Homo sapiens: one gene and its partner. The protein of the gene in region 1 interacts with the protein of each later gene in a biochemical or structural test. Each region holds a gene or a part of one and is shown in the gene's direction. Other genes may lie near its edges.

What was found. The genes of interacting proteins can lie anywhere in the genome.
Region 2: the proteins of KPNB1 (region 1) and NUP153 form a complex in vitro, tested with the Homo sapiens proteins (4 studies listed by BioGRID and IntAct, with this or other methods).

Annotation. Positions count from the first base shown.
Region 1 is NC_000017.11:47,648,178-47,651,777, forward strand, and holds the start of KPNB1 (importin subunit beta-1), read left to right. Parts: upstream 1-1,741; 5' UTR 1,742-2,067; coding exon 2,068-2,107; intron 2,108-2,208; coding exon 2,209-2,267; intron 2,268-2,887; exon of another isoform or gene 2,888-3,199; intron 3,200-3,600.
Region 2 is NC_000006.12:17,630,145-17,633,967, reverse strand, and holds part of NUP153 (nuclear pore complex protein Nup153), read left to right. Parts: intron 1-1,123; coding exon 1,124-1,318; intron 1,319-3,823. UniProt on the Homo sapiens protein: Component of the nuclear pore complex (NPC), a complex required for the trafficking across the nuclear envelope. Functions as a scaffolding element in the nuclear phase of the NPC essential for normal nucleocytoplasmic transport of proteins and mRNAs.

The DNA of each region.
Region 1 (3,600 bases):
CAGACTGGTCTTGAACTCCTGACCTCAAGTGATCCGCCCGCCTCGGCCTCCCAAAGTGCTGGGATTACAGGCATGAGCCACCGCGCCCGGCCCTATTATTACACTTTTCCTTTATCATTTTAAAAATCTTCATTTTTTTTAAAAGAGACAGGATCTCGCTAAGTTGTCCAGGTTAGTCTTGAACCCCTGGGCTCAAGCGATCCTCCCAAAGTCCTGGGATTGCAGGCCTGAGCCACATACTGTATGCACATTTTTTTTCTTTTCTTTGAGATGGAGTCTCGCTCTGTCGCCAGGCTGGACTGCAGTGGCGCGATATCGGCTCACTGCAACCTCTGCGTCCAGGGTTCAAGCGATTCTCCTGCCTCAGCCTCAGGAATAGCTTGGACTTCAGGTACGCGCCACCACACCGGGCTAATTTTTTATATTTTAGTAGAGACGGGGTTTCACCATGTTGGCCAGGATGGTCTCGATCTCTTGACTCGTCATCCGCCCCCCTCGGCCTCCCAAAGTGCTGGGATTACAGGCGCGAGCCACAGCGCCCGGCCCACGTTTTCTTTATATGCATTTTGCTAAGAAAAGGCATTCATGAGTTTCTTCCGGGGTTGAGAACTGAAACAGGTTAAGAACCACAATCCTTTATTCCTGTACACACATTCTTTCTGGTTCGAGGTTGGGCCTTTACAGGGTACTTTTGGAGGGTGAAACATTTCCATCCTGTCAAGTACCTGGTAGCTATGGATGGGGGGTCTAAGAGGAGGAATCCCTTAGCTCACCCCTAAGCAAGTCAGATTTATCACAGCACAGGTCTCAAGCCCCATATAAGCAGGCTTAGGGGACTCCTTGGAGAGGAAGCTGCTTGTAGGGACAAGGGCCGTCAGGAGAGCTTGAGCTTATCAAGCCACTAACCAGCTGTGTGACCTTGGACAAGTTCCAGACCCTCTCTGGGCTCCTGAACCCATTCCTTACCAAGCCATTAACCAGCTGTGTGACCTTGGACAAGTTCCATACCCTCTCTGGGCTTCAGTTTCCACATCTACACATTGGCAGTGGAGCCACATGGCCTTACGGATCCCTCCCAGCCGAAAGCAGGGTACCAAGCCGACCTAGCCATTAAAGCAGCTTCCTGTGGGCGCGGCGCAGGACTTCAACAGTCCCCCCTCCCCCGCTCAGGCCCGCGAAAACCTCGCGCAACACGCCCCTCGGAGCGACGGCGCTTACCCAACCGCAGCCCCAGCGCTCGAACCCAGCTCCGCCTCTTCCCGGGGGCGTCCCATCGTGCCCCGCGCCGGGCTCCTAGGGTTGCCGGGCACCTCCCGCCTTCCCGCGCCCCGACCCCGAACTCCTCTCCTTAGTTCTCCCGGGCACCCTATCCTATCAACGCCTACTATCCCAGCCAATCGCGCAGGATCCGAGTCGTGCCTCCGGTCCACCCTCCTCCCAGCGCTCAGCCGGTCTGAGCTCAAGGCCTTTACCAAGCCCACCCAATCAACGGCGGGCTCTCTCCTACCCCATCCCAATCTCCCTCCCCTCGGCCAATCCGCGCGCTCCATTCCGCTGCCCGCCCAGCCAACCCGGGCCTTGAAACCAGCAGGCGAATGGGCGCGAGACGGCCCTTCGACGCTGAGCGCCTGGCCAGTTAGGGATTCCGCGTGGCCAGGACAACGGCCAATCGTCGTGGAGCGCGGCGCCTCCGCGGAGAGGTCCGGTCCGAATATCCCTCCGCCTTCCTCCCTCCCTCGCTCCCTCCCTGCGCGCCGCCTCTCACTCACAGCCTCCCTTCCTTCTTTCTCCCTCCGCCTCCCGAGCACCAGCGCGCTCTGAGCTGCCCCCAGGGTCCCTCCCCCGCCGCCAGCAGCCCATTTGGAGGGAGGAAGTAAGGGAAGAGGAGAGGAAGGGGAGCCGGACCGACTACCCAGACAGAGCCGGTGAATGGGTTTGTGGTGACCCCCGCCCCCCACCCCACCCTCCCTTCCCACCCGACCCCCAACCCCCATCCCCAGTTCGAGCCGCCGCCCGAAAGGCCGGGCCGTCGTCTTAGGAGGAGTCGCCGCCGCCGCCACCTCCGCCATGGAGCTGATCACCATTCTCGAGAAGACCGTGTCTCCCGGTAGGACGCAGGAGCCGGGGGTAGGGCTGAGGTGATTGGGGTGGGGGAGGGGAGGCCCGGCCCCTCTGACCCCGCTCCGTCTCCCACTTTCCTCCCCCTAGATCGGCTGGAGCTGGAAGCGGCGCAGAAGTTCCTGGAGCGTGCGGCCGTGGAGAACCTGGTGCGTGCTACCCCGCCGCGCCCATCCCGCCGCGTCCCCATCCCCTGCGTGCGGGGCCTTCCCGCCCTCCCGGAGGCCCAGGCCTCGGGAACCTACCCCGCCCCATCCCGTCCCCCTCCCCCCTCCCCCTCCCCCCCCAACCCGGTCCAACCTAACCCCGCCATCGGGAAGCCGGTGGGTGTGTCCCGCCCCGGGCCTCGCGACTGGCCAATGGCTTGGCGCGCCGAGCTGCCTGCCGCCCAATCGTTGCGCGGCCTGAGGGCGGCGGTGCAGCGGGAGGGAGAAAGAGGGAGGGAAGGGAAGTTAGGTTGCGCGGCGCTGCGTGTTCAGCAGGGGTGGGGGCGGGGGAGTCGGGCCTAGGGGCCATGTGGAAGCTCCGGGCCCGGCCGCCCGCCCTGTCTGACCCCGGCCGGCTTCTCCTTCCTATCCCGTGGCCCCTGTGGCTCTCCCCACCTATTTCCTAGAGCTCTGCCCTTTCCTAGCTACCTTGGTCTGTACTCATGGCCAGGCCTGGCACCCGACTGCCTCTTAACCCATTTCCACTGATATTTTTCCCTCTTTGCTCGGTTATTCCTCTCTTGGGGTTTTTTCTTTTTCTTTCTTTCTTTTTTTTTTTTCTTCTGACCTGGATGAATAGAGACCTAATCACTAGGGATCTGCACCCAGAAAACAGACTGAGGCTCATCTTTGAGATGGGGCCTGTTTGCTGATGAAATCACAGGGGAAAGTTCCTCGTTTTTCATATTTTAAAATTTAAGGGGTCCGGAGAAAATGAAGCTAAGTCCGCTAGAGACTGGTCCTTTGTATAAAAATGTGGGATGGATTGGTTGAAACAGCCTAGATGCCAGTTAAGTTTCTCTTTGGTGTCCATCTCCTGTTGGGGGATGGGGTCAGAGGGAAGGATTGGATGATGCTTGACATCTTTGAGAAAGGTAATAGGAATTAAGTCTGAGTAACACTAACCATATGTGTTCCTTTGTGTTATATAGGCAAAATGTCAACATCAACAAAGTGACAAGGCTTATTTTATACAGACTGCCTTTGAATGATTTTTTTGTTGTTTTTCATATGTGCCAATTTTTACAACTAACCTGTTTATCCTTTCCTAGAAGAGATTTTTCCACTAGTATAGGCTGATAATTCCATTTAGGGTATTATTCCTGTTTCTGCTTTTGCAAATTTTGCAAAAAGCTTTTTATCTTATTCCTAACATTCTTAACATTCTTTAGTGGTACATAATTAATAAAACTTTTAAGAATTATCTTCTGCTGTGATTGCAGAGCTTGTTAGCAGTAAGAAAAATGTGTCTGCTTTTGACTTTTCCTGCTAACTT
Region 2 (3,823 bases), on another chromosome or scaffold:
TCAGAAGTGTAGATTGCAGGTGTAGATTAGGAAACTGTTTTTTGGGGATTTAAAAACCACTGGAGTAAATGAGAGTTTGTGAGGACAGTGGGCCAAGATGGAACCCCAGGGAGCAATTTGGTTGGCAAGATGGAAGAGAACATACCTATAAAATGTAGAGATCAGTTAGGTAACTATGGAAGAGGTGGCGACAGTTGTAGGCCATCTAGAGAAGTAGGAATACCAGAATGAATGGCTTCACTGTCAGCACTATATTTTGGGCCTTACCAAGCCGTTCTTCCTGTGCCACCTCTCCCACAAACATGCTAGTTTTGCTTAAGATTTGTCACCTCTGTGTATCCTTTTCCTGCCTCTTAGTCATTTCTTCCTTCTTTGCACACTTGTTTTAGGTTGTCACTTGGTGATGGTGCCACTGTGCTTTTATTTTCCCCCTTTAAGACCATGAGCATCTTACAAGTTAAGCAACATTTTATTCATCTTTAATGTCCCCAGAACCCAAGTATATTATGATGCTTAATAAATGTCTGTTAAATGGCTAGCATGTAACAAATGTCAGGAATGTAGTAGGTGTCAAGTTAGATTGTGAAGTGGATGTGAAGTAGATGCACTTCTGTGCAAAAGCTATCATTCAGAGGCAGAGATCTATGCTTTCAAATCTTGAAATTCATATGGTCTGTGGCTGTGTATTTTATATGTTAGGATATTGCCTACAATTTACATCTTATGTCTTAGAATGCTTGCTGCTTTGAAGAAATTTGAAAAAGATTCTTAAGAAAAATTTAGTCTTTGAGCCCCTAATTTGCGAGCATGATTTTTTTTCTTAAACCACAGCAGTTCAAACATGTGGTTAAGGGGGAGCTCACCAGTGAGCAAGGTGATTATGAGCTGCTCATTTATAAGGTTAAAAGAAATCATTTATAAGGTTAAAAGAGAGGTCTATTCTTTTTTTTAAACAATGTAAATATGAACAGTTGTCTATTTCTGGCACATTCTGTGTTTTAATAGGAAATATTATTAGAAACTGAACACTTAAACTTAGCAGTGCCATTAAGATACTGACATACTGTAAATTAAAATTTTCATGAAATCTCCCCCCACTCCCCGTTTTTTTTTTTTTTTTTAGGAAGTTCAGTACCTGCTTCAAGTAGCAGCACTGTACCTGTCTCTCTGCCTTCTGGAGGCTCTCTAGGATTGGAAAAGTTCAAGAAACCCGAGGGAAGCTGGGACTGTGAATTGTGCCTAGTGCAGAATAAGGCAGACTCTACCAAATGTTTGGCATGTGAAAGTGCAAAGCCAGGCACAAAATCTGGGTTTAAAGGTAAGGCCAAAAAAATAAAAATAAAGGTGATGGTAAAGCGCCTTTTTGTAAGGCCATTTAAAAATGAAGTATTTGAGAACAGCTTCAGTGTTCACTCATTCTCTCTTGAAAATTAATATAAAATGAGATTATCCTGAGATGTTTTAGTTATATCTGTTTCTGAATATTGTAAGGTCATATTAGTTGCTTGTCAACAGTGAGGTATCTTTTCTCCAGGTGGGAAAAAAAATTTCTTGTGTCATTGAGCCTCAGAGAGTTTTTGTTTTTTGTTTTTAACTGCTAGCCCCCTAGGTGAACTGTTCTTTGTTTTTTTGTTTGTTTGTTTTTTTGTTTGTTTGTTTGTTTGTTTTTGAGACAGTTTTGTTCTTTTGCCCAGGCTGGAGTACGGGGGCGCGATCTCTGCTCACTGCAATCTCCGCCTCCCAGGTTCAAGCAATTCCCTGCCTCAGCCTCCCAAGTAGCTGGGATTACAGGTGTGAGCCACCGCGCCCAGATGAACTTACTGACTTTTATTTGACTGGGAATACACCTCTAAATTAAAAGCGATACAGGCTGTGGCTTTGGTTTCCCAAAGTAGGTCCCAGGAAAAGAACTCTTAATATTTTACTATATAAGTACAAAGGAAGACTCCCTCAAAGTAATTAATCCTAAACTAACTGGAGGCCAGATTTTTGTGTTTTTTTTGAGATGGTGTCTTGCTCTGTCGCCCAGGCCGGAGTGCAGTGGCCGATCTCTGCTCACTGCAAGCTCCGCCTCCTGGGTTCATGCCATTCTCCTGCTTCAGCCTCCCGAGTAGCTGGGACTACAGGAACCTGCCACCACGCCTAGCTAATTTTTTGTGTTTTTAGTAGAGACGGGGGTTTCACCATGTTAGCCAGGATGGTCTCAATCTCCTGACTTCGTGATCCACCCGCCTCGGCCTCCCAAAGTGCTGGGATTACAGGCGTGAGCCAACACGCCTGGTCTGGAGGCCAGATTTTTCAAGTCTTCTGTAAAAGAGTAAGCCCGCAAGGAGAAAATGTGTGAGGATTAATGTCTTGAAACAACTCAGACAGATATTTCATCTTCTTACTTATAAGTTGTAGCTAAATAAAGTGTACTCAGTGGACAGAGTGTAGACCCCTAGAACGGTGAGAGGATGGGATGGGGGGTAGATGATGAGAAATTAATTAATGGGCACAATGTACATTATTTGGGTGATGAATATACTAAAAGCCCAAACTTCACTGCCAGGCAACATATCCATGTAACAAAATTGCACTGGTAATCCTTAAATTTATACAAATTAAACAAAAATAATAGCAAGCTTTATCTACTTTGTAATTAGCTTTCAAACTCTTGATTGCAAACCAAAAGTCAGGAATAAACCTTTTATATTGTGAGCCATCACCTGCACAGCGTATATGTCTATATGATTGAAATCTGTTTTGCAAAATAATACTTGCCTCTGGTAGGTGTAAGGTTCCCTGGTATTTTCTGTTTTATTTTATTTTAAAAGAGAAGTGCTGGTTGCAGCCTGCTAAATTAATTGATGATTAATGGTATACAACTAGCAGTTTGAAAAACACTGCATTTAAGTGTTTTAGAAGTTTGTGCTTTCTGGTTCATTTTATCTCTTTCTGTAGCTGTTAATTCATGCTCCCCTTTTTATACTGTTCTCTACCTGTAGTGTGGTAATCACCATACTTTTAAGTATCTTAGTACTTCTTAATGATCCTTGTTTTGAGCCAGTAGGTCAAGTACTTCATTTCTGATTTCCTTAGCTGCAGAAAAGCATTATGAAACCAAGACTTTGATCTTGTCAGTATAATGCTTGCTCTCTTCTCTTTTCTCTTCTCTCCTCTCTCTTCTCTCCTGTCTTCTCTCTTCTCTCCTCTCCCCTCTCCCCTCTCCCCTCCCTTCTCCCCTCCCCTCTCCCCTCTTGTCTCCCCTCCCCTCTCGTCTCCCGTCTCCTCTGCTCTCCTCTGTTTTCTTTTCTTTATTTATTTTGAAGTGGAGTCTCACTGTTGACCGGGCTGGAGTGCTGTGGCGCAATCTTGGCTCACTGCAACTTCTACCTCCCGGGCTCAAGCAATTCTCCTGCCTCAGCCTCTCAAGCAGCTGAGACTACAGGCACAGACCACCATGCCTGGCTGATTTTTTTTGTATTTTTAGTAGAGATGGGGTTTCGCCATGTTGGCCAGGCTGGTCTTGAACTCCTGACCTCGGGTGATCTGCCCGCCTTGGCCTCCCAAAGTGCTGGGATTCCAAGCGTGAGCTACCACGCCCAGTCTGATGTTTAACTTTATAAACATTGCTTCAACTCTGTAATTCTTCTGTTTTTCTGTTGCCTTCCTTTTTTAAATGCTTGAGTGAATAACACATTTATTCACAAGATTTAAAAATCAAGAAATTGTGACAAGGTTCAATCTCTTCTCTCCATTGTCTCTTTTTCCACCTTCCCTCCCACTTCCAAATGTAACTGTGGTTAGTTTCTTGTAAATCTTTCAAAGTTTCTTTATGCCC